7 linked regions of the Homo sapiens genome follow. The protein of the gene in region 1 interacts with the protein of each later gene in a pairwise test. Each region holds a gene or a part of one and is shown in the gene's direction. Other genes may lie near its edges. The genes, in order: PRPF40A, SDF4, RABGAP1L, KCTD17, DNAJA3, PCYT2 and DZIP1.

Region 1 (3,500 bases):
GAGTGAGTGCAGTTGTAAGTGCCTGATGTTACTTTGGGACAGCTCTATCCAATAAAAATGTGAATGCCACAAATGCGATTTTAATTTCCTATTTATTTTAGTAATTTAACCCAATATAACCAGATATTATTTTAACACATCAATATTTTTAAAAATTGCTAATATTTGTGGTATTAAATCTTCAAGATCATTGTGTATTTTGTACTTAACAGCACATCACAACTCAGACTAGCTACATTTCATGTACCGAGAAGCTACGTTTGGTCAGTGGCTACCTTATTGAACAGTGCAGGTATAGGAATTGTGGGAACAGAATATAGGGTTACAGTTTCTTTTAGGCACATTTGTGTATAGCAGCGGTCCCCAACCTTTTTGGCACCAGGGACCGGTTTAGTGGAAGACAGTTTTTCTTGGTGGGGTGGGGTGGGGAGTTGGTATCATCAGGCATTAGATTCTCATAAGGACCACACAACCTAGATTCCTGGCATGCTCAGTTCACAATACGGTTTGCAGTCCTATGAGAATCTGATGCCGCCACTGATCTGACAGGAGGTGGAGCTGGGGCGGTAATGCTTGTTCCACCACTCACTTCTTGCTGTGTGGCTTGGTTCCGGTTCCGTGGCTGGGGGTTGGGATCCCCTGGTGTATAGGATTAAACTCCCTGAGGATTGGGTTGGAAGCAGGAAGTGTGGAAATTGAAACTAGATATGGGTTTGAATCCTAGGTCTCCAAACTACTTTGGGAAAATTATACATCCTCCTCTTAAGGCCCCTTGTTTTTTAAAAGTAAATAAAAATACCTAGAACACATTAGGCACTATTTTTAAAGACAGAAAGTATATATTTAAGGAAACATGCATATACATTCTTTAGCCTCATCATTTGAGGTAGATATCCAGTAATTTAAGTTAACTTTTACCTTTTTTTTTTTAAAGCTAAAAATTAGGTTCTATCTTAAAGGGTAGGAAATAGAACCTTAGGAAGATAATGTGCAGTTTCAAAAGTTATTTTCTCTAAAGGACAAAATATTTTTTTGCCTAGAGGCAGTTGTTACTTTGCCCAAATAGCAAATATTCTTTGTGCCCAAACAGGTTTGGGATAACATTGGTAGAAGAGTTTTAACTATGTCAAAGTTTTTGTGTGTTTTCATGTTAGACGCTTATTTCTCATGTACTCGAGATGACTTTCCAAATATAATTTTTCTCCCTAGATATTTTTAGATGAATTACATGAACATGGACAACTGCATTCTATGTCATCTTGGATGGAATTGTATCCAACTATTAGTTCTGATATTAGATTCACTAATATGCTTGGTCAGCCTGGTAAGATTATTTTCTTTCCTAATTTACCGTTATGGTAGTAGTTGAAATGGGCCAAATGCAAAGGTGATTGTGTTGGGGGAAAGGGTGCTTTATTTTTGTTTTTTAAACAACAAAGTAATTGCAGCTCTTTGGTTAGAGCTAGCTTTTGACTTCTTTAGTTTTTTCATTAGGATCAACTGCACTTGATCTTTTCAAGTTTTATGTTGAGGATCTTAAAGCACGTTATCATGACGAGAAGAAGATAATAAAAGACATTCTAAAGGTAAATATATTTATTCTTACCTTTTAACCAATAGTATATCTTAAAAGTTAGTACTGTATTCCTTTGATTTATGCATTATTAATGTTAAGATTTCTTTTTTTTAGGATAAAGGATTTGTAGTTGAAGTAAACACTACTTTTGAAGATTTTGTGGCGATAATCAGTTCAACTAAAAGATCAACTACATTAGATGCTGGAAATATCAAATTGGCTTTCAATAGTGTAAGTTATGTTTTCTGTTGTAAGTAACTAGTTTAGTAGTATAGTTTTTAATTTATTCAGATAAAAGCAGCTAAGTTGCAGAGTGTTGGAATAAGGGAATATGAATAGAATTTTACAGAGTGGTAGCCAGTCTTTCAGGTAAGGTAAAACAAAAAACTTTATTTAGATGATGGATTGATATTAAACTTCCTTTGCTCAAATTAACTGGTATTATACATAAAATGGCCATTATAAATCAGGCCTTGGGCCACACATAAAGTACACTAACGATAGCTGATGAGCTTAAAAAAAAAATTGCAAAAAATCCTTATAGTGTTTTAAGAAAGTTTACAAATTTGTGTTGGGCCACATTCAAAGCGGTCCTGGGCCACAGGTTGGACAAGCTCGTTTTAAACAATGCGTGATTCCTAAATTAACAATAAATTATTTCAGCTAATAGTTATGATACTATTATAACTGATTAAATATGATTTTCTTAATAGTTACTAGAAAAGGCAGAAGCCCGTGAACGTGAAAGAGAAAAAGAAGAGGCTCGGAAGATGAAACGAAAAGAATCTGCATTTAAGAGTATGTTAAAACAAGCTGCTCCTCCGATAGAATTGGATGCTGTCTGGGAAGATGTATGTATACTTGTTATTTTTTTCTAATGGAATTCTTTTCTTTACAGTTGAGAAATTTAAAATATTTTTATTTTTCATTTTATAGCCACAAAAATAAGCTAAATTTATTTGTAGAATATATTAAATATATTTAGAATATAATAAAAGCATTAAATCAGCTGTTGACTCTGTTTAGGAATATTTGTAAAGAATGGTTTGGACTTTTGAAGGGAGGAAATAATGGACTTTAAGGGGACTGATTCATCACAGTTTTCACTTGCTGTTATGATTTATTTTAGATGTATCGTTGTACTTTTCTTGGTATTCATATATTTATTTTGTATCTGAATTTTTCAGATCCGTGAGAGATTTGTAAAAGAGCCAGCATTTGAGGACATAACTCTAGAATCTGAAAGAAAACGAATATTTAAAGATTTTATGCATGTGCTTGAGGTAATTTTAGAATTCTCATATACAAAATATATAAAATATAAACAAATTGAAGAACTTAGAATGATGAAAGTATGTTGCTTAATATTCACTGCTTTTATACAAATGTACTTACCTGGATGGTTAGAGAATGGTTTTTTTCCTATAAAAACTGCTTTTAAGTAAAAGAAACTATTAAGTTTCCATGGGAATATAAAGATTTGTATGTGAAGACTGTTTTGTATTTTTAGAAAGTTTTAGAAATTGAGCAGTTTGGCAGCCACATGGATTGATTGACTAATAAAGAAAACTTGAAATTTTTCTTGTAAAGCAGATAGAAGACAGCTTTTAGGCACATTTGAGGTATTATACCACATTAGCTGTGTAGAAAAGAAAGTTTCTGGAAAGTAATGGAATAAATGGTAAGTTTTTGTTAAAATAAGCAATGAAACAATAACATCTCAGGTCACTTTAATAGGTAAGGTTCACTGGGCACGGTGGCTCACGCCTGTAAAACAAGCACTTTGGGAGGCCAAGGTGTGTGCTGATCACCTGAGGTCAGGAGTTTGAAACCAGCCTGGCCAACATGGCGAAATCCTGTCTCTACTAAAAATACAAAAAAATTATCAGGGAGTGGTGGCGGGCACCTGTAATCCCAGCCACTC
Region 2 (2,786 bases), on another chromosome or scaffold:
GGGCAGGGGGGGGTCCAGGCTGTCTTGGGGAGTCCGGGCTGTGTGGAGGGGTCCAAGCTATGCCTTTGGGGATCAGGCCTGTGGGAGGCTCTGGGTTATGTCTTGGCGGGGGTCCAGGCTGTGTCTTAGGGGCTGGGCCATGTTCTGGGGACGTGTGAATCCTGGAGGGTGGGGCCCCGGTCTCGCGGGTGGCTGTGTCCCTCGAGTTCAGGCAGCACCTCTCGGAACTTTCTGGATTTGCGTGCTGGCGTCTGTCGGCCTCGATACCCACAGGCTGCGCCCCTCTCAGCACAGGAAGTCCTGGAGAACCTGAAGGACCGCTGGTACCAGGCGGACAGCCCCCCTGCAGACCTGCTGCTGACGGAGGAGGAGTTCCTGTCGTTCCTCCACCCCGAGCACAGCCGGGGAATGCTCAGGTTCATGGTGAAGGAGATCGTCCGGGACCTGGGTGAGGCTGGGTCCAGCCTGGCCGGCACGCCAGGACCCAGGACCGACTGGCAGGGGCCGGGCATCGTCGGGAGGTCGGGGCAGGTCCTGCGGGAGCCCCAGCCTGGGTGTGGGCTGACCCATTCCCGTCTCGCAGACCAGGACGGTGACAAGCAGCTCTCTGTGCCCGAGTTCATCTCCCTGCCCGTGGGCACCGTGGAGAACCAGCAGGGCCAGGACATTGACGACAACTGGGTGAAAGACAGAAAAAAGGAGTTTGAGGAGCTCATTGACTCCAACCACGACGGCATCGTGACCGCCGAGGAGCTGGAGGTGAGCCCTGGCGCAGCCGTGTCCCGGAGCCGGCCCTGCGAGGTGCTGTGGCGGGAGGGGCTGGTGGATCTGGGCCTGAGGCAGGAAGCTGTGCTGGTGTCTGGCCTGAGACTCCATCTGGGCTGGTCACTGGGGCGTTTGCTCAGCGGTGTCCACCAGGCTGCATGGCCGTTGTTGGCGTTTAGGTTCAGACGGATCAGAGACAGGCGAGCCTGGCCGGGCTCCATCCTCAGCCCCTTGCGGAGGCGTCAGGGTTCTCACAGCCCCTTTTTAACGGGACCACAAGGGGAAGCTCATGCTGGGCCCAGCATGGAGGCAGGTCCAAGGCCCAGCAGGTGCAGGTGGGCGGGGCGGCCTGTGCCACATGGCTGGAATTTACCACCTTCCTCTGAAGCGTTTTCACTGGTATCATGTGTAGGCTTGTTTTTCTCCCACTGCTGAGTGAGTCATCTTGTTTTTATGTAGAATCCTGTGATTCCTGGCGACAGCCAGTGGGCCCGGCCCAGGTTAGGGATCCTTCAGAACTGGGGTCCAGGCCTGTGTAGCCCCTGTGCCCCGTTACCCCTGCTGGCCCCGGGCAGGCCTTCCGGGGCCCCCGGCTTCTCCCTGCCCTGTGTTTTCATTTGTGCCGCCTCCCTTCGGGAACCTTCCAGAACGTGCCCACACTCCCGCTGCAGCCAATAGGCACCTTAAATAGCCACTTCGTGCGGCTGGCCGCGGAGCTCGGAGGGGGAAAGGCGACGCTGACCTGTGCCCCGCTCGCCCGCAGAGCTACATGGACCCCATGAACGAGTACAACGCGCTGAACGAGGCCAAGCAGATGATCGCCGTCGCCGACGAGAACCAGAACCACCACCTGGAGCCCGAGGAGGTGCTCAAGTACAGCGAGTTCTTCACGGGCAGCAAGCTGGTGGACTACGCGCGCAGCGTGCACGAGGAGTTTTGAGCGCCCGGCCGCGCCCCGCGCCGCCCCCCACGCACCACCGGGGCGGCCTCGCGGGTGACTCCGGGCTCCGTGGCTGTCCCGGACCCCACCTCTTCCCTGCCGCCCGCCACCGGCCGACCGACCGCGGCTGCCCCAGTTGATGAGCGGCGTGTCCCCTCTGCAGCGCGCACCCCGGCGGGGCTTTGGCTGTGACGCGGTCGGGGCGCGGGGCTGGGCTGTGGCCCCGCGGCGCCGCCTCCTCCCTGGTCCCTCGAAATCGTGGCATCTCACTTCTGAGAACGAAATCTCGCTTCAGTCACTCTGCCGAAGGCGCTGACGGCATCGCGGCCGGAACCTCTGGGCCCGGCCCCTCCCAGGGCCGCCGCTCCGTGGGAAAAAACAGCTCCTCCATTTCCTTGAAAACTGAACGATTATTAAAAATAGATTAAACTTCGCTGGAAATGAGTAGCCAGGAAGTTCAGGGGAGGGTGCCGGGTCCTTCCCGGGCCTGGCGTGTCGGAGCCACCCAGGTCCCGCAGCTGCCGCTGAGAAAATGCAAATATTTGTTGTGACAAGAATCACATACATTTACTTTAAATATAGTTGCCTTTTTTGGTCAGCTTCATTCTTTGGGCGTGAAACAAAACACAACAGCAGCGTGCTAGGTTTGTGGTTACAGTTTCCACTGGAGCGCTGGAGGCTGGTGCTGGGTCACGTGGAGGGTTGGAGGTCATGGCCGGTTCGAGGTGATTCTCCTGGCAGGTGGCAACGGGCAGGGGCTCTGGGAGGACGGAGGGCAGCGCTGCGTTTGTGAGTAGGGGTCAGGGGGCAGCAGACGTGCCCACTGAGTTTGGGGTTTGGACATTTAAGGCAGGAGACAGAGCCGCCTGGGGGTTTTGGGTGGAGGATGGCAAGGTCTTTGGGTGCAGTGGGGCAGGCCTAGCCCCAGATGGGGCAGAGAATGGGGTGTGTTAGGACGGCTGGTGGGGGTCCTGCTCTGTGGCGTGTGGGGGCCCAGGCTGTGTCCTGGCTCTCCCAGTGGGAGCTCAGGGAAGCCGGGAGTGTGTCCTCTTCAGTCTGCCCTGTGGTGCCCATGTGACCG
Region 3 (3,500 bases), on another chromosome or scaffold:
AAGTACGGTGTATTCTATTTGCATAAAGAAATCACTTAATGACACATAACTTAGAACATAACCCTATCATTAAGCAACAGGTGACTCTGTGTGTGTGTGTGTGTGTGTGTGTGTGTGTGTAGAGGAGAGAAAGAGACCATTATCATATGAGTGTGTTGGGGCTGCTGAGAGGGTTTCGTTTACAAGTGACCTTGAGTGTATTTCATCTCTGGAATGCATGGTCCCTGCGCTCAAGCTACACAATCTGATTAGTGAAGTATTACTAATACACTAGAAAAATATACATAGTAATTACCAAATGACTGACACAATTTTATAGGGGGTTCAGAGAAACATCTGTGAATGGGTAATAATGAAAAAAGAAAAGTTTTTCTCTTTGTTTTAGTCTGACCCTTTTAACAGTCTCTATTCATAATGTGAGGAAATCGCTACAAAAACTGAAATATTGTAGATACTGTTCATTTGCATATGGAAATACTTGTATGCTGTGTGTTGTTCTTTCATGGGACAAACTCTACCCCTCCTCTCTCCACACACATATACACAAGCTATAAGTAGCCTAGCTTTCGCCATAGGAGTTGCTGGCTTTTTTAGTGAGAGTCAAGAGCTGGCTTGGTAAAGTCTTAAAGAATGGAGAAGAGGAGGAAGGAGAGAAGGGAAGAAAGAGGGAGTAAGTGTAACAGTAGAGGGAGAGAGTTAATACACTTGGATGCTGCTTACAAACCAAAAATTAGTCTCCTAATACTAATTTATGATTGTAAGAAAGTATATAAATATCTGACATATAGAAAATAGACAAGTGTTAATTTTAAAGGTATTAATTGCTACAAACTAAATTAATATTTTAAGAATTCATTAAAAATTAGAATATTAGAAGAAAAATATTAACTTTCCCTACTGTGATTAGCTACTAGTTCAGTTTAACTGTCTTCAGCTAATTCTATATTATTGTTTTAATAGAAACCATATACATTCTTATGTGTATATGAGATTTGGACAATTGGTGTCAAGATCAAGTTAAATACAACTTTGTAACAATATTATGTTTTTTTGATTCAGCATGTAAGTATATGCCTCCTTTTATCCAAGGGTACATGTCTTTAAATAGAAACTGTGCTTGAAGAAAGCTGTAGAAGAATTTAATATTTAAATAAATGCTTTTGTAGGATGAAAAGAATTTACAGTGAATATAAAGCTCCTGCTTGACTGTTAATCTAAATTTTAATAATTTGTATTGCTTAAAGTAAGATGTAATTTAAAGTAGTGATTTTTTTGATGTCTTTTATCAGTAATTACTGTTTGAATTTTTATAGGAATCCATGGGAAAGAGCTATGATGGGAGAGCTTATGTCATCACTGGCATGTGGAACCCCAATGCACCAGTATTTCTGGCACTTAACGAGGAAACCCCAAAAGGTGACTTTTCTTAAAAGATCCCTTATTGTTTGCTTTACATTTTATATTATGAACAATGTTGCTTGTCATGTTTTAAAAAAAATTTGGAACTCAAAGTGGACTTATTCTTTCATTGAGAATTTGAGGTTCATTTTTATTCTTTATGCTTCTATGGGGGAAATCTCCACTATTTAAAAAAATCCTCCCCAAAAGATATGTGAATTATTATTATTGTTATTATTTTAAGAGACAGGGTCTCACTCTGTTGCCCAGGGTAGAGTATAGGGGCATTATAGCTCACTGTAACCTCAAACTGTCATGCTCAAGCAATCCTCCCACCTCAGCCTCCTGAGTAGCTATTAAATAGAACTACAGGTGTGTGCTGCCATGCATGGCTAATTTTTAAATTTTATTTTTGTAGCGATGGGGTCATGCTTTGTTGCCCAGGCTTGTCTTGAACCTTTGACCTCAACTGATCTTCTTGCCTTCCAAAGCACTGGGATTACAGATGTGAGCCACTGCACCTGGCCTGAATTAATTTTATTAGATTATAGAGAAAGCATTTGGGCTTTGTTTTTCATATACCACTATAGAGTTATTTCATTTGTGGAGACTAGTGATGGAGAAATATTAAAGAAAATGATGAAAAGGAAATATTTTAGAATTTTGAATATTTTTAAATTATTAACTATTTTTGCATTATAGTTTACTTATAGTTTTTCATTTATTAATTATTGGCTCCAGTCTTTTGGCCTTCGGGATGCTTGTAATATATATTAAATATTTCAGTTGTAGCAAATAGTTTTTTCTTAGTTTTTTAACTTTTCATATTATTTATCATGTCTAGTATTGAACAGAATGTATAAATGTTGAATAGTCACATTTTTCGTTGTTCCATTGTGTTTTTTCATTCCTACTTCATCCAGATAGCTGTTAATTGCCTGTTTTTTGCCCCTTCATTATCTACTTTTAAACTAAATTTAAAGTTTTACCTGCCGAGTTATATGCCTACCCTAAGTGCTTTACTGTCATTAAACCATTAATTCATATTTAGAATATAATGGATCAGTTTGTTTTATCATTAATTTTTATATTATTTAGTTTATACCCACAGTAGACTTTTGGTTACTGACAGGAAGCATTCGTGAATACTGATATGAAAATATAATATGTTAATGAAGGGCATTAAAATGATAATTATTCTTTCATTTCCTTAAAGAGAGTATTCACCATTTATATAAATCACATACATTGATCACATATTAAGCTGTCTAAAAATAAAGGCTAAACAGAAAAAAAGATTATATAAAATTTAACTTTTCATTTATTAGCAGTAAATAATTTTTAGACCCACAATTTGTTATTTCTGGAGACAGGCTTGCAAATACCTGTAACTTCTTTCTTATACTTGTTCAGAAGGAAGCCACAAAAATGATAAAAATAAGCCAGTTGACAGTTTTGAAGAACAAAATATAAGAATTTTGCATATCAAGTTATAAAAATAGTTTTTATGTTTTTAATGTAACACCTAGTTTAGTTTTATTTTGCAATAAAATATATATTTGGTCCACAAAAGAAAATTTATTTATAATTTATTCTATTAAACTATATAATAGTATATTATAATATTCTGATTCAAAGTATACATTTTAAATTTAACATTATCTCATATGCCACACAAAAATGTTGCCCTGATTTTTAAAATTTCTAAATTATGTCCTTGAAATTACACATTACTCAGAGAATGTGTGATCAAATAAAGTTTGATTTTTATGGAAGAAGTTTAGAACCTGAGAGATGAAAAGTCTTGGATCTTTCCACTGCACTAAGATCCAGTTGAATGTTATATTCTGTCTTGTGTTATTACTCCTTACTCCTTTCTCTAAGGTCCTCCAGGTCAAGTATAATGTCTAACAAATTTTAGTTTCTCTTGAATTGGCAGGTGTATTTAGTAAGACTGTATTTAGTAAGAATGTAATAAAATTGTTATTGAATTTGAGAAGTAGTTGATGAATCTGAATGTTATATAATATTTAAAAACACTATTGAGGGTTTCTTCTAGTGGTGGCCTTGGTTATTTGGACTTTCCTTTAACAGAGAACTAA
Region 4 (3,500 bases), on another chromosome or scaffold:
GTCGGAGCCCCCAGGATGGCCTGGAGGGATGGAAGAATGGGCCTAGTGCAGAGCCAGAGGCCTGGCTTCACCTCTAGGCCTTGCCACAGACATGCCTGCCACCTTGGGCAAGTTACATCTCCTGTGCGGGACCCAGTTCCCTCATCGGTGAAGTGGGCTAACAGTACCTCCTCTGTAGGACTCTTGTGAGATTAGAAGGGCCATCAGTAAAGCTTACAGCCCTCCGTAGGACTCCCTATGTTGGCATTAGTGTCATGCAAATCATTAGAAATCCATATTGAAGTCTGCAACACTCAGAGAGGACTTGGGATCCCCGATGCCATTCCCTGCTCCACCCCTTCCTAGCTGTGAGGCCTTCAGCAGGCCTGAGATTCTCTTCAGGGTCCCTGAGAGCTGAATGAGACTCATCACCTGGAAGAACTTTCTTATTTCTTAGCCAGAAGGGCTCTGTGGGCGTGGTTATTCTAGGGACCCTGGAACAAGGGCAGGGCCACTCTGAGAGCCTCTGGGTGTCTTTGGCAATTGCACAGGCTCTCAGAGGCTGAGCAAGCAGGCCAGGGACCATTGGTCATTTGCCCTTTGGTCTCAGGAGTGGACCACCTGTCGTCCCACCTCTGCTTCCAGGAGTGAAGGGAATATTCTGTGGGGCTCCACCTTGCCAATGCCACCCTGCAACCTTGTCCTGGGGCTGTGTCAGCCACATCTGGAATGGGGGACAGCCGCCCTTTAGAGGCCTCCGCCTGCATTTAGAAAAGGGCCCCCTGGCTCTGGGGCTAGGCTGGAGGTGGTGGTGGGGACAGCGGTAATGCTGCCACCCTCCACCAGGGATCGGGCCAGCCAAGCCAGGCGGAGGGGCTGGTCCTGGGGCACAGACCACAGGCACAGGTTGCAAGGGGGAAGACTCCACCTTCCTGCCCAGAGGTGCCCTCTACAAACCCAGGAGTGGGCCCGACAAGCCGCAAGATTAGGACCTGAGCTGGTATCTTGATTTGAGTGCCGAGGTCTGTCGTATCCTGCCCCACGGCCCCCAACACCAACCTGCATTTTTCTCCCCATGCTCCGCCCCTCTAGCTGGTGAACATCGGCTCCTCCTACAACTACGGCAGCGAGGACCAGGCAGAGTTCCTGTGTGTGGTGTCCAAGGAGCTCCACAGCACCCCAAACGGGCTGAGCTCAGAGTCCAGCCGCAAAACCAAGGTGAGCCCACCCGCCTCAGCCTGTGTCCGGAGAAGTCTCCTGTCTCCCTCCACCCTCCCCGCCTGTCCCGCCCCTGCGCCTGCACCATCCCTCCACCTCTCTCCCGCCACCGCCCATGCACAACCCCATGCTCACAGCCACCGCCATCCATCCCATGCCACCTGCCGTTACCCAGGCCCAGGCTGGGAGCAGTGAAATGAGAGCATCCCCAGGGTGCAGCCGGCGTGGACTCAGAGGCTACATGAAGGGGGCCGCTTAGTGGCCACTGGGCACTGTGGCATGGACTAGGGGTCAGGGCACAGTGTGGCACTCTCTGTGTGACTTAGGACAGGGCTTGTCCTCTCCCAGCACCTTTGCTGCACTCTCTGAAGTGAGAGGGGAGGATCACATACTCTTTGTAGTGCCTTGGAGCCTGGAACTTCTGGGATCCCAAATGGCCGTTTATTCCCCAGGGACAGGTGCATGTCCCCAGCTGGCCTGAGCCAGGATGAGGAAGCCACCGCTGTAAATCCTGCCCCTTTCCCAGGCCCCCTCCTTGGCTGCTCTGCAGGATAGGGGCAGCCTGGTGGCTGCCAGTCCTGTGTGTCCGCCTGGCCTGTTGAGGCAGCCTCCTGAGAGCACCCTGGCAGCATCCACTGTACCACTGTGGGGAGAGGGCTGAGCGGGGGTCCTGCCATCCTGGACCCAGTGCTGTGGGAAGTCCCAAGGGCCTTCGCAGAGCCACAGAGCAGGCGTGAACCAGGCTGGGAAGAAGGCAGGCTGCTCCTCCTGGGGCCCAACCCCACACAGTGGAGGCTTACCTCTGGCTTCCTGTCTATCTGTCTGCCTCCCTGTCCTGCTGTGACGCACCCTGCCTGCCCACCCACCCCCACCACTGCCAGGGCTGACGCTGCCCTGCAAGGGTGCAGAGCGAGACTGCTCCTTCTGCCTCTTTGGGCCAAAGCCCCTGGACCTGGGGTGTCAGAGACTGGCTGGCATCCCAGATCTGGGTGGTGTCTGCCCTGGGGCTTCCTTGGCCACATTTCTACTGAGGAGCAGTCTTTCCAAACAAGGCCTTCCCAGGCACCCCTCAGGGATACCCCAGTCCCACACCCTCCCTGTTCTGCTTCATCCCCTCCCTCCAGCCTCGCTCTATGTAACAGCAGCCAGGCTGACCCCGGAGCATGCCCACAGCATCCCATCCTCAGCTGCTTTCCCCAGGCCCTCCCCAAGCTGCCCAGGGGACCGGAGAAGATGCCCCCAGCTTCTGTGGCTGGAGCCCTCCCCTCTCCTGAGGTCCCTTTCACCTTGCCTGAGACCGGGTCTTTGGGGATAGCCAGCAGGCCCTGGCCCCTCTGTTAGTGTCTCCACTCTTTCTTCCCTGGGTCCGCCGGCTGGTTCACAGAGCACGGAGGAGCAGCTGGAGGAGCAGCAGCAGCAGGAGGAGGAGGTGGAGGAGGTGGAGGTGGAACAGGTGCAGGTGGAGGCAGATGCACAGGAGAAAGGTGCAGCCAACCCCCAGGAGGATGATTGCTAAGCAAAGCCGGAGCCTCCCGCCCACTCCTTGCTGGAGCCAGCTGCAGAACCGGGGGCCCCGGGGCTGCTGGGGGGGCACCAGGGTTAGCTCAGCCACTTGCCTGGCGCCTCACCCGCATAACCATCCCTTCTCTCACTTTCTCTTTGCAGCCCAGTCATCTCAGGATCCCGCTAACCTTTTCTCCCTCCCACCACTGCCTCCTCCTCCGCTTCCCGCTGGAGGTCCTGCCTCATCTTCATCCACCTCTTCTTCCTCCTGGATCTCATCTGCACCCTGCCTCTTCCCTCTCTGCCCCTGTCCGGGTTTTCTCTCTGCCTGCTCACGCCTCCATCCCGGGTCTGCCCTGGTCCCAGCCTCCCGTGCCCTCCACCCAGGCCCCCTGGCCCTGCATCCCAGAGCGTCCTGCCTGCCGCCTCCTGCGCCCCTTCTGGTACCTCCTGCCTCCCAGCCTGGGGAGGAGGGGCGCAGCTGCACCTCCTCTGTGCCCACTAACCCTGCCGGGCACCTCTGAGACTGGGCCCTGGCTGCAGGCCCTGCCCCCCCTCCTCTCCTCCCGGCCTCCTCCTCACGTTTCCTCCTTGCAGGTTCCCGTCCGCACCCTCTCAGACCTGAGGCTGAGCTTGCAGTGAGGGCTTCTCCTCGGCCCCTCGCCCGCCCCCAGAGCTGCCATCCCTGGTTTGTAGCTTGGCGGTGCTGGAGGGAGGGGTGGAGCGAGGAGGGTGCTCATCTCTTGATCCTTGGACTTGAGCCGAGCTTTCGGCTGATTATCTCCACCCACCAAAGTTTC
Region 5 (3,500 bases), on another chromosome or scaffold:
CTGGATGTTTAACCTTTTGAGAAGCTGCCAGCCTTTTTCAAAGCAGCTGCACCATTTTACATTCCCACCAGCAGCATATGAGGGCCATGATTTCTCCACATCCCAGTGAACACTTAACTATTATCGTCTGTCTTTTTAATTACGACCCTAGTGAATAAGAAATGCTATCTCGTTAGAGTTTCGATTTGCTTTTTCCCTGATGACTAATGATGGTGAGCATCTTTCTTGTGCATGTTGGCTATTAGTATGTCTTTGGAGAAACGTGTGTTTGGATCCATTGCCCACTTTTAACTGGGTTGTCTTTTTTTTTTAATTGGGTTGTAATGGAATGAACAGAGGCATGGGGACAGGAAGCAGAGATCCTGGCCTGTGAAGAGCGAATGGCCTGTCTCTTCCTGAGCTCAAGAGTCAGGTGCCTGATCCAAGAGTGGGAAAAGATTGAAAAGATGGAGGCTGGGTTGGACTCACATGACAGTTGATTTGAGGCCCTTAGTAAGTCCCAGAGACATAATTTAAGAGAAAGACTTAATTTAGAGAACCATTCAGATTTTTAGGCACGGAAGTAAAAAGATCAGGTAAAGCTGTAGCAATTACTGTATTTTATTTACCTACAAAAATAATTGAAACAGCAGAGACGTCTATTTATTCAGTCATTTTCTTCCCTTTTTAAAAATTTTTTCTTTTTTCAGACAGAGTCTCGCCGTGTGGCTCAGGCTGGAGTGCAGTGGTGCAGTCTTGGCTCACTGCAACCTCTGTCTCCTGGGCTCAAGCAATTCTCCTGCCTCAGCCTCCCGAGTACCTGTGTTTATAGGCGCGTGTGACCATACCTGGCTAATTTTTGTATTTTTAGTAGAGATGGGGTTTCGCCATGTTGGCCAGGCTGTTCTCAAACTCCTGACCTCTGGTGATCCACCCAGCTCAGCATCTCAAAGTGCTGGGATAACAGGCATGAGCCACTGCGCCCGGCCCCCTTTTTAAAAATTTGTTTTTCTTTTTTGTTCATTTACCTATTCTAAGCCATGCTGGGTGCTAAGGGCAAAGATACATCAGAATCAGTTCCTGCCCTCAAGTTAAGAGATGGATACATTAAAACAGATCATTATTATTATTATTTTGTGGGGCGGACAGAATCTCACTCCGTCACCTAGGCTGGAGTGCAGTGCCTCGATCTCTGCTCACTGCAACCTCCACCTCCCAGGTTCAAGTGATTCTCGTGCTTCAGCCTCCTGAGTAGCTGGGACCACAGGCATGTGCCACCACGCCTGACTAATTTTTTCTATTTTTGGTGGAGAGGGGTTTCGCTGTGTTGCCCAGGCTGGTGTTGAACTCCTGAGCTTAAGTGATCTGCCTGCCTTCACTTCCCAAAGTGTTGGGATTACAGGCGTGAGCCACTGCACCCAGCCGAGAGACAACTTTTATAAAGGGAACATAATTATGACTGGTATTTGGGGTTCTGTTGTATCGGGGGTTTTGTTGTTTCTGGTATTTGGGGTTCACATTGTATCTGGAGTAATTTATCATGTTTTTCCCTTAGCTTGCCAAGAAGTATCACCCTGACACAAATAAGGATGATCCCAAAGCCAAGGAGAAGTTCTCCCAGCTGGCAGAAGCCTATGAGGTAATATGACTTCGGTGCATGCGGTCACTGCTGTTCAGCTATGTGTATGAATCAAAGGTTGCATTGCTACCTGGGACAGCCTGGTGTGTCATACAGTCCAGTGTGAAGGCCATGTCCCTGCGCCAAGTAATCTTGTTAAGAAAAATAAAAAAAAAGAGATTCCAGGCCAAGCATGGTGGCTCACTCCTGTAGTCCTAGCACTTTGGGAAGCTGAGGCAGGAGGATCACTTGACCTCAGGAGTTGGCTTGACCCTAGGAGTTTGAGACCAGCTTGGGCAATGTAGTAAGACCACGTCTCTACAAAAAAAAAAAAAAAAATCACCAGGCGTGGTGGTGGCGCACCTGTAAACCCAGCTACTTGGGAGGCTGAGTCAGGTTCATCACTTGAGGGGCTCAAAGCTGCAGTGACCCATGATGCCATGATTGTGCCATAGAACTATGGTCTGGGCAACAGAAAAAGACCTTCTCTCAAAAAATAAAAAATTAAAAAAAAAACAAAACAACAACATTCTAAGACTAACTTGGAATCTCAATGAAGAACAGGATCCAGGCCAGGCGTGGTGGCTCATGCCTGTAATCCCAACACTTTGGGAGGCCGAGGCAGGTGGATCACCAGGTCAGGAGATCGAGACCATCCCGGCTAACACGGTGAAACCCCGTCTCTACTAAAAATAAAAAAAAATTAGCCGGGCATGGCGGCATGCGCCTGTAGTCCCAGGTGCTGGGGAGGCTGAGGCAGGAGAATGGCGTGAACCCGGGAGGCGGAGCTTGCAGTGAGCTGAGATTGCGCCACTGCACTCCAGCCTGGGCGACAGAGCAAGACCCCGTCTCAAAAAAAAAAAAAAGAACAGGATCCAATAATCTGTACTAATAAAGTTCCCCAGGTAATTTACACTTGTAGCTGGATTTGGGAATTCACAGTTGGATTAATTAATTCAGCCCTTATTCAATGACATCCCCTTCCTCCACCTCAGGGCATCACTGCTTTTTGGGGATAGAGGTTATTGTAAAAGTAGAAGCCCATTATTGTCCTATAAGAATGTCAATGTAATCAGAGGACAAAGCATACATCTCTGAAAACAGCTATTGACCCCACTTCCATAGTTTTCTGAAAGTAGACCTTTTTCCCAGATTTTTTGACAATCTTTTCTTTTTTTTTTTTTTTTTTTGCTTAAGAGACAGGGTCCCTCTATGTTGCCCAGGCTGGTCTTGAACTCCTGAGCTGAAGAGATCCTCCTGCCTCAGCCTCTCAAATTGCTAGGATTATAGGTGCAAGGCACCAGACCTGCCCGACTTTGGCCATCCTAAAGGGGTTCAGTATATATAGGAGCTCATATATCTATAAGAGTAGACAGCCACGTAGAAGAACAGGCTCAACTCAGTAAATCTTTTTTGAGTAAATATCTGTCAACTAGATCTAATGAAAAGTTTATTTACTAGTGTAATTTTAAAATAATATGTTCTTATTAGGTAACTCAAACTAATTGATAACATAACTAAACAGTCTTGGAACCTGCTTCTATGGAAGATAAGATTAATTTTTTTTTTTTTTTCAAGAGTTGAGGTCTCAGCCAGGTGCAGTGGCTTACGTCTATAATCCCTATAATCCCAGCACTTTGGGAGGCCAAGACAGGCAGATCAGGAGGTCAGGAGTTTGAGACCAGCCTGGCCAAGAGACCAGCCTGAGCAATATGGTGAAACCCCATCTCTACTAAAAATACAAAAATTAGCCAGGTGTGGTGGTGGGTGCCTGTAATCCCAGCTATTCAGGAGGCTGAGGCAGGAGAATTGCTTGAACCCGGGAGGCATCAGTGAGCCGAAGATTGCGCCATTGTACTCCAGCCTGGGCAACAGAGCGAGACTCCCAATCAAAAAAAAAAAA
Region 6 (3,500 bases), on another chromosome or scaffold:
GGCCTGGAGGCCCTTGCCATTTGGTGCTGCAGACCCATGGCCCCAGGGCTCCAAAGGCACAGCTTTGTGAGGTGGCAGCTGTTGAGCTCGGGGGACGTGGCTGGCACTGCTGGGGAGCTGGCACTATATCTGAATTACCAGACGTCAGGGACATGAGGCCAGTGGCTCCCGCATGAGATGCTGCAGCTGAGAATTCACTCAGCTGCAGATGCTCAGCGGGCAGGACGTGGGTGTGAGGGAGGCAGGAAGCAGAGCTGCTACCCCAGTGCCCATCCTCTCCCTGGCATTGCACACCTGGGCCCCAGCAAGGGTCCTTTTCTGTGCTCCTGCCACTCCCTTCAGTCAATAAAAGCGTGGAGGCCTTCCCCATGTTCCCAACCCAGGTTTTCTGTTATGGCCTTGCACAGGAAGGGGACCCTCAGTCTTTGGGGCAGCCGTGGGTTCTGCCACAGCAGGGCTGCTAGTGTCCCTAGTGGTGGTAGCAGGAGGCAGAGCCTTGCGAGTGTCCCAGGATGAGACCCCACTCCCACTGTGTCCCCCAGAGAATGCAAGCGCACGCAAGGGGTGTCCACCACAGACCTCGTGGGCCGCATGCTGCTGGTAACCAAAGCCCATCACAGCAGCCAGGTGAGTCGGCGGCGGAATCCCCGAGGCCCCTGGGTCGAGGTCTCCAGGGGAAAGGAGGGGCACCTCCCTGCCCTCTCAGGGTCCTCCTGCCCACTGCTCCCCATCCCCAGCCGGTTCTGGGGTGGCCACGCCGGGAGGGCAGGCCCCTCAGCCCTGCTCTGACCTTCTGTGCAGGAGATGTCCTCTGAGTACCGGGAGTATGCAGACAGTTTTGGCAAGGTGAGTGCGGCTGTGCAGGGAGAGCTGAGCACGCAGCTGCAGGGGGCTCCCCCGGCCACCTGTCCCAGCCATCCCTTGGGGAAAGGCCAGCCCAGAGCCTCACCCTCCTCCCTCTGTCCCTGGCACTGACCAGGCACTGACTGCCAGGTTTGGCTCACTGGTGGATGCTGGGAGGGAGGGCAGGCGGGTGGTGGCACCGGCTGGCCGGTCACGGCAGCCACTGCTTGGAGGAGCAAGGATTTGCCTGTGGACAGGTGGCCTCTAACCAAGTGGCCTGGCCCTCTCTCCCATTGTAGCCCCCTCACCCGATACCCGCCGGGGACATACTTTCCTCAGAAGGCTGCTCCCAGGTGACCAGACAGTGGTCTCAGGGTACCAGGTCCCTCCCAAGGGCTGTGTGCACCTGCCACAGGGCTCCTTGCCTCCTCCTGGTGGTCGCTTGCTGGGCTGAAGTGGTGTCTGCTGCGGTGCCTGCTGTGGTTGTGGGGTGGCGCCACAGTCCCACCTGCCACCTGGCCTGGCAGTGTGTCCCCTGCCCGAGATGACTGGCTGGAAATGGGATTGCTGGCAGGTGACAGCTGAGGGTTTGGTGACCTGGTGAGGGCAGCACCTGGGAGGCCTCCCCCGCCAACCTGCTCCCTCTCTTGGCTTGCAGTGCCCTGGTGGGCGGAACCCCTGGACCGGGGTATCCCAGTTCCTGCAGACATCTCAGAAGATCATCCAGTTTGCTTCTGGGAAGGAGCCCCAGCCAGGGGAGACAGTCATCTATGTGGCTGGTGCCTTCGACCTGTTCCGTATCCTCTGGGCCTCTGCTGCTCCCCTACATGTGCCACATGGGGTGGGACCCGGGGGCCTCACTTGACTCCTTGGGGCCCCCAGACTGGGCTGGCTGGTTTGCAGGGGAGCAGCTGTCAGCAGGGAGGATGGCGGGGAGGCCCTTGGGCATGAGCTGTCAGGGAGCTGCTCCCTGTCATCCCCATCCCGACTGCTTCTTAACCTGGGTGCAGACATCGGGCATGTGGACTTCCTGGAGAAGGTGCACAGGCTGGCAGAGAGGCCCTACATCATCGCGGGCTTACACTTTGACCAGGTCACTGCCTTCTTGCTCCCTGGGCCCCTGGGCAGCTGATGGGCCCTCGAGGGGCCCTAAGCGTTGCTGTTAGGTGCAGGTGGTCTCTGGGAAGGGGCCCCAGGTGAAGTCACAGGAGACCCTGGGGGGTGATCGTAGGCTTCTGGGGTCCAGGGCTGTCCTGTCTGGGGCATCCCCACAAGGGCGAGCAACCTCCCCGACTTCTTCCCATGAGGGACAGCCGGGAGGGGCACACCCTGTCCCCCCAAAAAGTCTCCGGGCTGAGCTAGCCGCACTCTGGCCGCAGGAGGTCAATCACTACAAGGGGAAGAACTACCCCATCATGAATCTGCATGAACGGACTCTGAGCGTGCTGGCCTGCCGGGTGAGTGGGGGCCAGGAGCCAGCCCAAGGATGGGGAGACATTCCCACAACATCCCCCCTACTAAGGGCCTCCCTGAGCCAGGGCAGGGGGGCTTGGGTCACTGGCAGAGCTGCACCCAGCACCCCGAGTTCTGTGGCACCTGCCCATACCTGTTTGTTGAGGCATGAGGAGGGGTGGTCAGGTCTCCAGATGCTGTTCCTTCTTGTCTCATGGAGGAGCCCCAGGGGTCCCCAGCCTGCCCAGCCCATCCCTGCTACTCACTGGCAGCCCCGCCCCATGTCTGAGCCGTCTCTCACCACCCTGTGGCCCTGGCTTACCAGTAGCAGGGACCGAGCAAGTCTTTCTGCCCCCACTGTCCCCACAGTACGTGTCAGAAGTGGTGATTGGAGCCCCGTACGCGGTCACAGCAGAGCTCCTAAGTCACTTCAAGGTGAGGCTCCGCATGGGCTCACCTCGTTCCCTCTGTTCACCTCTGTTCCTGCATGGGCTGGGAATGCAGGCTGGCTGTGGGCTCCTAGGCGGGGCCCAGGAGGTACCTGGGCTGAGGAAAGGGCAGGGTCAGCTCTCCCAACCCCCGGGGCCTGTGCTGGGCTGTGGGTGGCGACGGCCGCTGCCTCCCCGGGGAGGGCTCCTGACCCCACTCCTTCTCCAGGTGGACCTGGTGTGTCACGGCAAGACAGAAATTATCCCTGACAGGGATGGCTCCGACCCATACCAGGTGGGTCATGCTGGCCCTTGCTGGGCACAGGGGTTGCCATTGGCACCTCCCAGCCATTTAATGACTCACTGTGCCTGCCTGGGAAACGGGCATGGTGGCGCAGCTGCTCCGACTGCACCACTCCCATGGGACCCTGGGCGCTGGTCTCCCTCTGGGGCAGGGCATCAGATGGGTCTTGGGGAGGTCAGCAGGGACCTTCATCCCGCTCCTCCTCTCTGGACCCCCAGGAGCCCAAGAGAAGGGGCATCTTCCGTCAGATTGACAGTGGCAGCAACCTCACCACAGACCTCATCGTCCAGCGGATCATCACCAACAGGTGCAGTTGGGTGGGGGCACCTCGGAGCCGCCTCATGGGCGCTCTCCGCTAGACTTACCGTGCCCTCCCCCTCGGAGCCGCCTCATGGGCGCTCTCTGCTAGACTTACCCTGCCCTCTCAGGTTGGAGTATGAGGCGCGAAACCAGAAGAAGGAAGCCAAGGAGCT
Region 7 (3,500 bases), on another chromosome or scaffold:
CCTGGTTAGACTTGACCTGAGTCTTCTTTGGGGAAAACGGAGAAAGGAAGGGAGCTGAGCGAAGGTCCTTGAGCTCCCTCTAGGGGCCAACAAGTTTTATAAACGAAAATAGAGATTTTTGGAATTCACCTGAGGGCTTTCCTAAAACTCTTTAAACTCTAGCGTGAGATTTGGCGAATGGCCCATGAACCAAGTCCAGCATACCACCTGTTTTTGAATGGCCTCTGACATAAGAATAGTTTTTACATTTTTACTTTTTATTTTTTTCAAGACAGAGTCTCTCTCTGTTGCCCAGTCTGGAGTGTAGTGGCACAATCTCAGCTCACTGCAACCTCTGCCTCCTGGGTTCAAGTGATTCTCGTGCTTCAGCCTCCTGAGTAGCTGGCGTTACAGGCACATGCCACCACACCCAGCTAATTTTTGTATTTTTAGTAGAGACGGTTTCACCATGTTGGCCAGGATGGTGTCGAACTCCTGGCCTCAAGTGATCCTCCCACTTGGGCCTCCCAAAGTGCTGGGATTACATTTGTGGGCCACTGTGCCCAGCCAGTTTTTAAATTTTTAAAACATTGGAAAAAAAGAAGACTATTTTGTGACACAGGAAAATTTCATTAAAGTTCACATTTCAGTGTCATGAGTGAAGTTTTATTGAAACACAGCCATGTTTGGTAATTTACGCTCTGTCTGTGGCATTTTTGTGTGGGAGCAGTAGAGTTGAATGTTTTGTCTGAGACTTTGTGTTACGAATCTGCATGACTTATAACTGTTGCTATTGACCTTGGCTACCTGGCTGTGGTAGTGTTTGTCAGGTTTCTCCACTGAAGATTTTCTCTTTTTTCCTCCTTTCCCTGCTGTCCTTTCTGAAATGAAGTCACTATGAGCAGCCTACACTGAGGAGAGGAGACGTGCGCTCCCCCATACTTTTGTTTTTGAAGTTAATGTGTTACCTTCTGTGGTTTTCTGAGGGTTTTTGCCATGAGTAACATTGGGAATAATATGAAAAGAAAAGGGTAAAATTAAAAACGTTATGTCCCCAGTGGATTTACTGATGTGGTCCCTGGACAGTGTTGGCCTCTCACTAAACTAGCTTAAGAACCAGGTGCATTCAGTTCTTCTGTTTCTGGTACCTATTAAGTGCCCATAAAAAATTTTAAGCCCCAGCTGGGCCTGGTGGCTCACACCTGTAATCCCAGCACTTTGGGAGGCTGAGGTAGGCAGATTGTTGTGTGAGCCCAGGAGTTTGAGACCAGCCTGGGCAACATGGCAAAACCCTGTCTCTACAAAAAAAATACAAAAATTATCTGGGTGTGGTGGTGCACGCCTGTAGTCCCAGCTACCTAGGAGGCTGAGGTGGAAGGATTGCTTGAACCCAGGGGGTTGAGGCTGCAGTGAGCCATGATCATATCACTGCACTCTAGCCTGGGCAACAGAATGAGACCCTGTCTCCAAAAAAAAAAAAAAAATTAGACTCGTTTAAGATTAGAAAGTTAGATTTTCCTTCCCCTTTTTTCACCCTGTACATATTCTGATAGGAAGACCAGCAAGCAGTAGAAACAAACCAGTAAAACCACAGGGAAGCAGAAGCAGGAGAAGCGTCCAAGAGCGTCCAGGAGCGTCCAAGAGGGCAGTCAGATTTAAAACACAGCTATGTGCTCCCTGATTTTATTCTCTGTTTCCATCTTATGAAAGTCTAACTGTAGTACTGAGCTTGAATTTTATCTTATAGCAACTGTCAGAAATCCAGAAGTCCAATATGCAGATCAAGTCCAACATAGGCACATTAAAAGATGCACACGAGTTTAAAGAAGACCGTTCTCCATATCCCCAGGATTTCCATAATGTCATGCAGCTTCTTGATAGTCAGGTACGTGCAAGTGGGTGACAGCTGCAGTGGATGCCTTCCTTTTTCTTAGTGAAGTAATTTACAGTGAGTGTCATCTGCAGAAAAAGTGTTTGTCTTTTTTAGTAACCCTGAAGGTGACTAGCTGTTATTTTTCTCCTACAGCATGCCTAAATCATAAGAGGTGTTTGTTACATGCTTGCTGTTGGCAAATAGCATACACAACAGTTGGCAGAACTGTTTTGTTTCTTCTCTCCATAAAGTCAATTTGAATTGGTTAGTATAACCTAGCTATTCATTTTTCATCTTTCAGATGTAGCTCTCAATTTCAAAAGGTGTAGAAGGGCATATTGAAGCACCAGATTTAATTTTAGAGTTTAAATATACTGCTAACTGTATTTTTAGTAGAAACGGGGTTTCACCATATTGGCCAGGCTGATCTTGAACTCCTGACCTCAGGTGATCCGCCCACCTCGGCTCAATTAACTGGGCGTGGTAGCAGATGCCTGTAATCCCAGCTTCTCGGAGGGCTGAGGCAGGAGAATTGCTTGAACCCAAGAGGCAGAGGTTGCAGTGAGCTGAGATCACGCCATTGCACTCCAGTCTGGGCAACAAGAGTGATACTCAGTCTCAAAAAATAAATAAATAAATACACACACACACACACACACACACACACACACACACACACACACACACACTGCTAACTGGTCAGCTGATGATCTGTTACATTTATCAAACATAATCACTTTCATTTGGAAGTGACAGCGGTTTAGGGGAACAATTTTTTTAAACTAGGAAGCAAATAGAGATGAGAGCTTATGAATTCAGGATTCTTTTTTAAAAGCCTGGGTCATTCTAAAAAAGGTAAGTAGACTTTGGAAACAGGGACCACTGCTTCTTGCTTCAGTGCTCACATGTTTCCTCCCTGACCCAAATCTACCTGCTCCACTGCAGTCAGGCTGACCATGTCCCTGTCCTGTCTGAAGTCCTTCAGTGACCCTTATTCCGGACTTCCTACCAGCACGCAGGGTCCTTCGGATTCTGGGCCCTGGGCCATCTTTCTCTGTTCTTTGCTTTCCTGGCACTCCAGCGGCCCAGCAGCCCATGCCTCTCAGAACATGCCCTTCTGTCTTTTTCCTCGGTTCTGGCTGCTTTCCTGCCTGTCCTGCAGCTCCCAGTTTTCGGGACCTGTCTTTTACTCATTCTTTAGTATTCAGCCAGGGGGGCAGGTACCGCTTTCAGAAAGTTCTCCTGAGCCTCTAGGCTATAGCATTTCTGTAGTCCCTAAGTGGGATCTGATGACATACACATTATATGTGGATTCTCCATGGCTGTGTCTACTCGCCTCCCGTGCAGAGCAGGGCCTGTCTTTTTATCTTCTTTTAGCCTGCCAGTGGCCATCCAGTGAGGTGCCTGGTATATGGTAGGAAACCAGGAGCTGTGTCCTGAACTGAACTGTTGACAGTTGCTTCCAGCAGGCTGTAGACTACAGCTGGTCGCTCATGAACTGAAGGATGTGGCTCTAAAATCCTAAGGTCCCACCTAAATTTCTTCTGTTTCTGTCCTGTGAGTTGTGTTGTCAGTTCAGAACCCATGGCCTCAGAAACCTTGGTGTTTCCTTTTGGCCTCTTAGGTTGGCAAACTAGCACCTCCTTTT

What was found.
Region 2: the proteins of PRPF40A (region 1) and SDF4 interact in binary tests that used the Homo sapiens proteins (3 or more experiments, as listed by UniProt).
Region 3: the proteins of PRPF40A (region 1) and RABGAP1L interact in binary tests that used the Homo sapiens proteins (3 or more experiments, as listed by UniProt).
Region 4: the proteins of PRPF40A (region 1) and KCTD17 interact in binary tests that used the Homo sapiens proteins (3 or more experiments, as listed by UniProt).
Region 5: the proteins of PRPF40A (region 1) and DNAJA3 interact in binary tests that used the Homo sapiens proteins (3 or more experiments, as listed by UniProt).
Region 6: the proteins of PRPF40A (region 1) and PCYT2 interact in binary tests that used the Homo sapiens proteins (3 or more experiments, as listed by UniProt).
Region 7: the proteins of PRPF40A (region 1) and DZIP1 interact in binary tests that used the Homo sapiens proteins (3 or more experiments, as listed by UniProt).

What each region holds. Positions count from the first base shown.
Region 1 is NC_000002.12:152,661,962-152,665,461, reverse strand, and holds part of PRPF40A (pre-mRNA-processing factor 40 homolog A), read left to right. Parts: intron 1-1,209; coding exon 1,210-1,324; intron 1,325-1,482; coding exon of another isoform or gene 1,483-1,494; coding exon 1,495-1,586; intron 1,587-1,690; coding exon 1,691-1,807; intron 1,808-2,289; coding exon 2,290-2,427; intron 2,428-2,763; coding exon 2,764-2,859; intron 2,860-3,500.
Region 2 is NC_000001.11:1,216,431-1,219,216, reverse strand, and holds the end of SDF4 (45 kDa calcium-binding protein isoform 2 precursor), read left to right. Parts: exon of another isoform or gene 1-283; intron 284-289; coding exon 290-448; intron 449-583; coding exon 584-759; intron 760-1,412; coding exon of another isoform or gene 1,413-1,528; coding exon 1,529-1,705; 3' UTR 1,706-2,286; downstream 2,287-2,786. UniProt on the Homo sapiens protein: May regulate calcium-dependent activities in the endoplasmic reticulum lumen or post-ER compartment. Isoform 5 may be involved in the exocytosis of zymogens by pancreatic acini.
Region 3 is NC_000001.11:174,274,520-174,278,019, forward strand, and holds part of RABGAP1L (rab GTPase-activating protein 1-like), read left to right. Parts: intron 1-580; exon of another isoform or gene 581-670; intron 671-1,313; coding exon 1,314-1,416; intron 1,417-3,500. UniProt on the Homo sapiens protein: GTP-hydrolysis activating protein (GAP) for small GTPase RAB22A, converting active RAB22A-GTP to the inactive form RAB22A-GDP. Plays a role in endocytosis and intracellular protein transport.
Region 4 is NC_000022.11:37,058,242-37,061,741, forward strand, and holds part of KCTD17 (BTB/POZ domain-containing protein KCTD17), read left to right. Parts: intron 1-1,071; coding exon 1,072-1,197; intron 1,198-2,581; coding exon 2,582-2,681; intron 2,682-2,862; coding exon 2,863-2,934; coding exon of another isoform or gene 2,935-3,297; coding exon 3,298-3,388; coding exon of another isoform or gene 3,389-3,500. UniProt on the Homo sapiens protein: Substrate-adapter for CUL3-RING ubiquitin ligase complexes which mediates the ubiquitination and subsequent proteasomal degradation of TCHP, a protein involved in ciliogenesis down-regulation.
Region 5 is NC_000016.10:4,435,868-4,439,367, forward strand, and holds part of DNAJA3 (dnaJ homolog subfamily A member 3, mitochondrial), read left to right. Parts: intron 1-1,534; coding exon 1,535-1,618; intron 1,619-3,500. UniProt on the Homo sapiens protein: Modulates apoptotic signal transduction or effector structures within the mitochondrial matrix. Affect cytochrome C release from the mitochondria and caspase 3 activation, but not caspase 8 activation.
Region 6 is NC_000017.11:81,904,900-81,908,399, reverse strand, and holds part of PCYT2 (ethanolamine-phosphate cytidylyltransferase), read left to right. Parts: intron 1-542; coding exon 543-627; intron 628-801; coding exon 802-846; intron 847-1,142; coding exon of another isoform or gene 1,143-1,196; intron 1,197-1,501; coding exon 1,502-1,640; intron 1,641-1,853; coding exon 1,854-1,936; intron 1,937-2,222; coding exon 2,223-2,300; intron 2,301-2,664; coding exon 2,665-2,730; intron 2,731-2,952; coding exon 2,953-3,018; intron 3,019-3,245; coding exon 3,246-3,334; intron 3,335-3,455; coding exon 3,456-3,500. UniProt on the Homo sapiens protein: Ethanolamine-phosphate cytidylyltransferase that catalyzes the second step in the synthesis of phosphatidylethanolamine (PE) from ethanolamine via the CDP-ethanolamine pathway.
Region 7 is NC_000013.11:95,620,707-95,624,206, reverse strand, and holds part of DZIP1 (cilium assembly protein DZIP1), read left to right. Parts: intron 1-1,726; coding exon 1,727-1,864; intron 1,865-3,500. UniProt on the Homo sapiens protein: Molecular adapter that recruits protein complexes required for cilium assembly and function to the cilium basal body.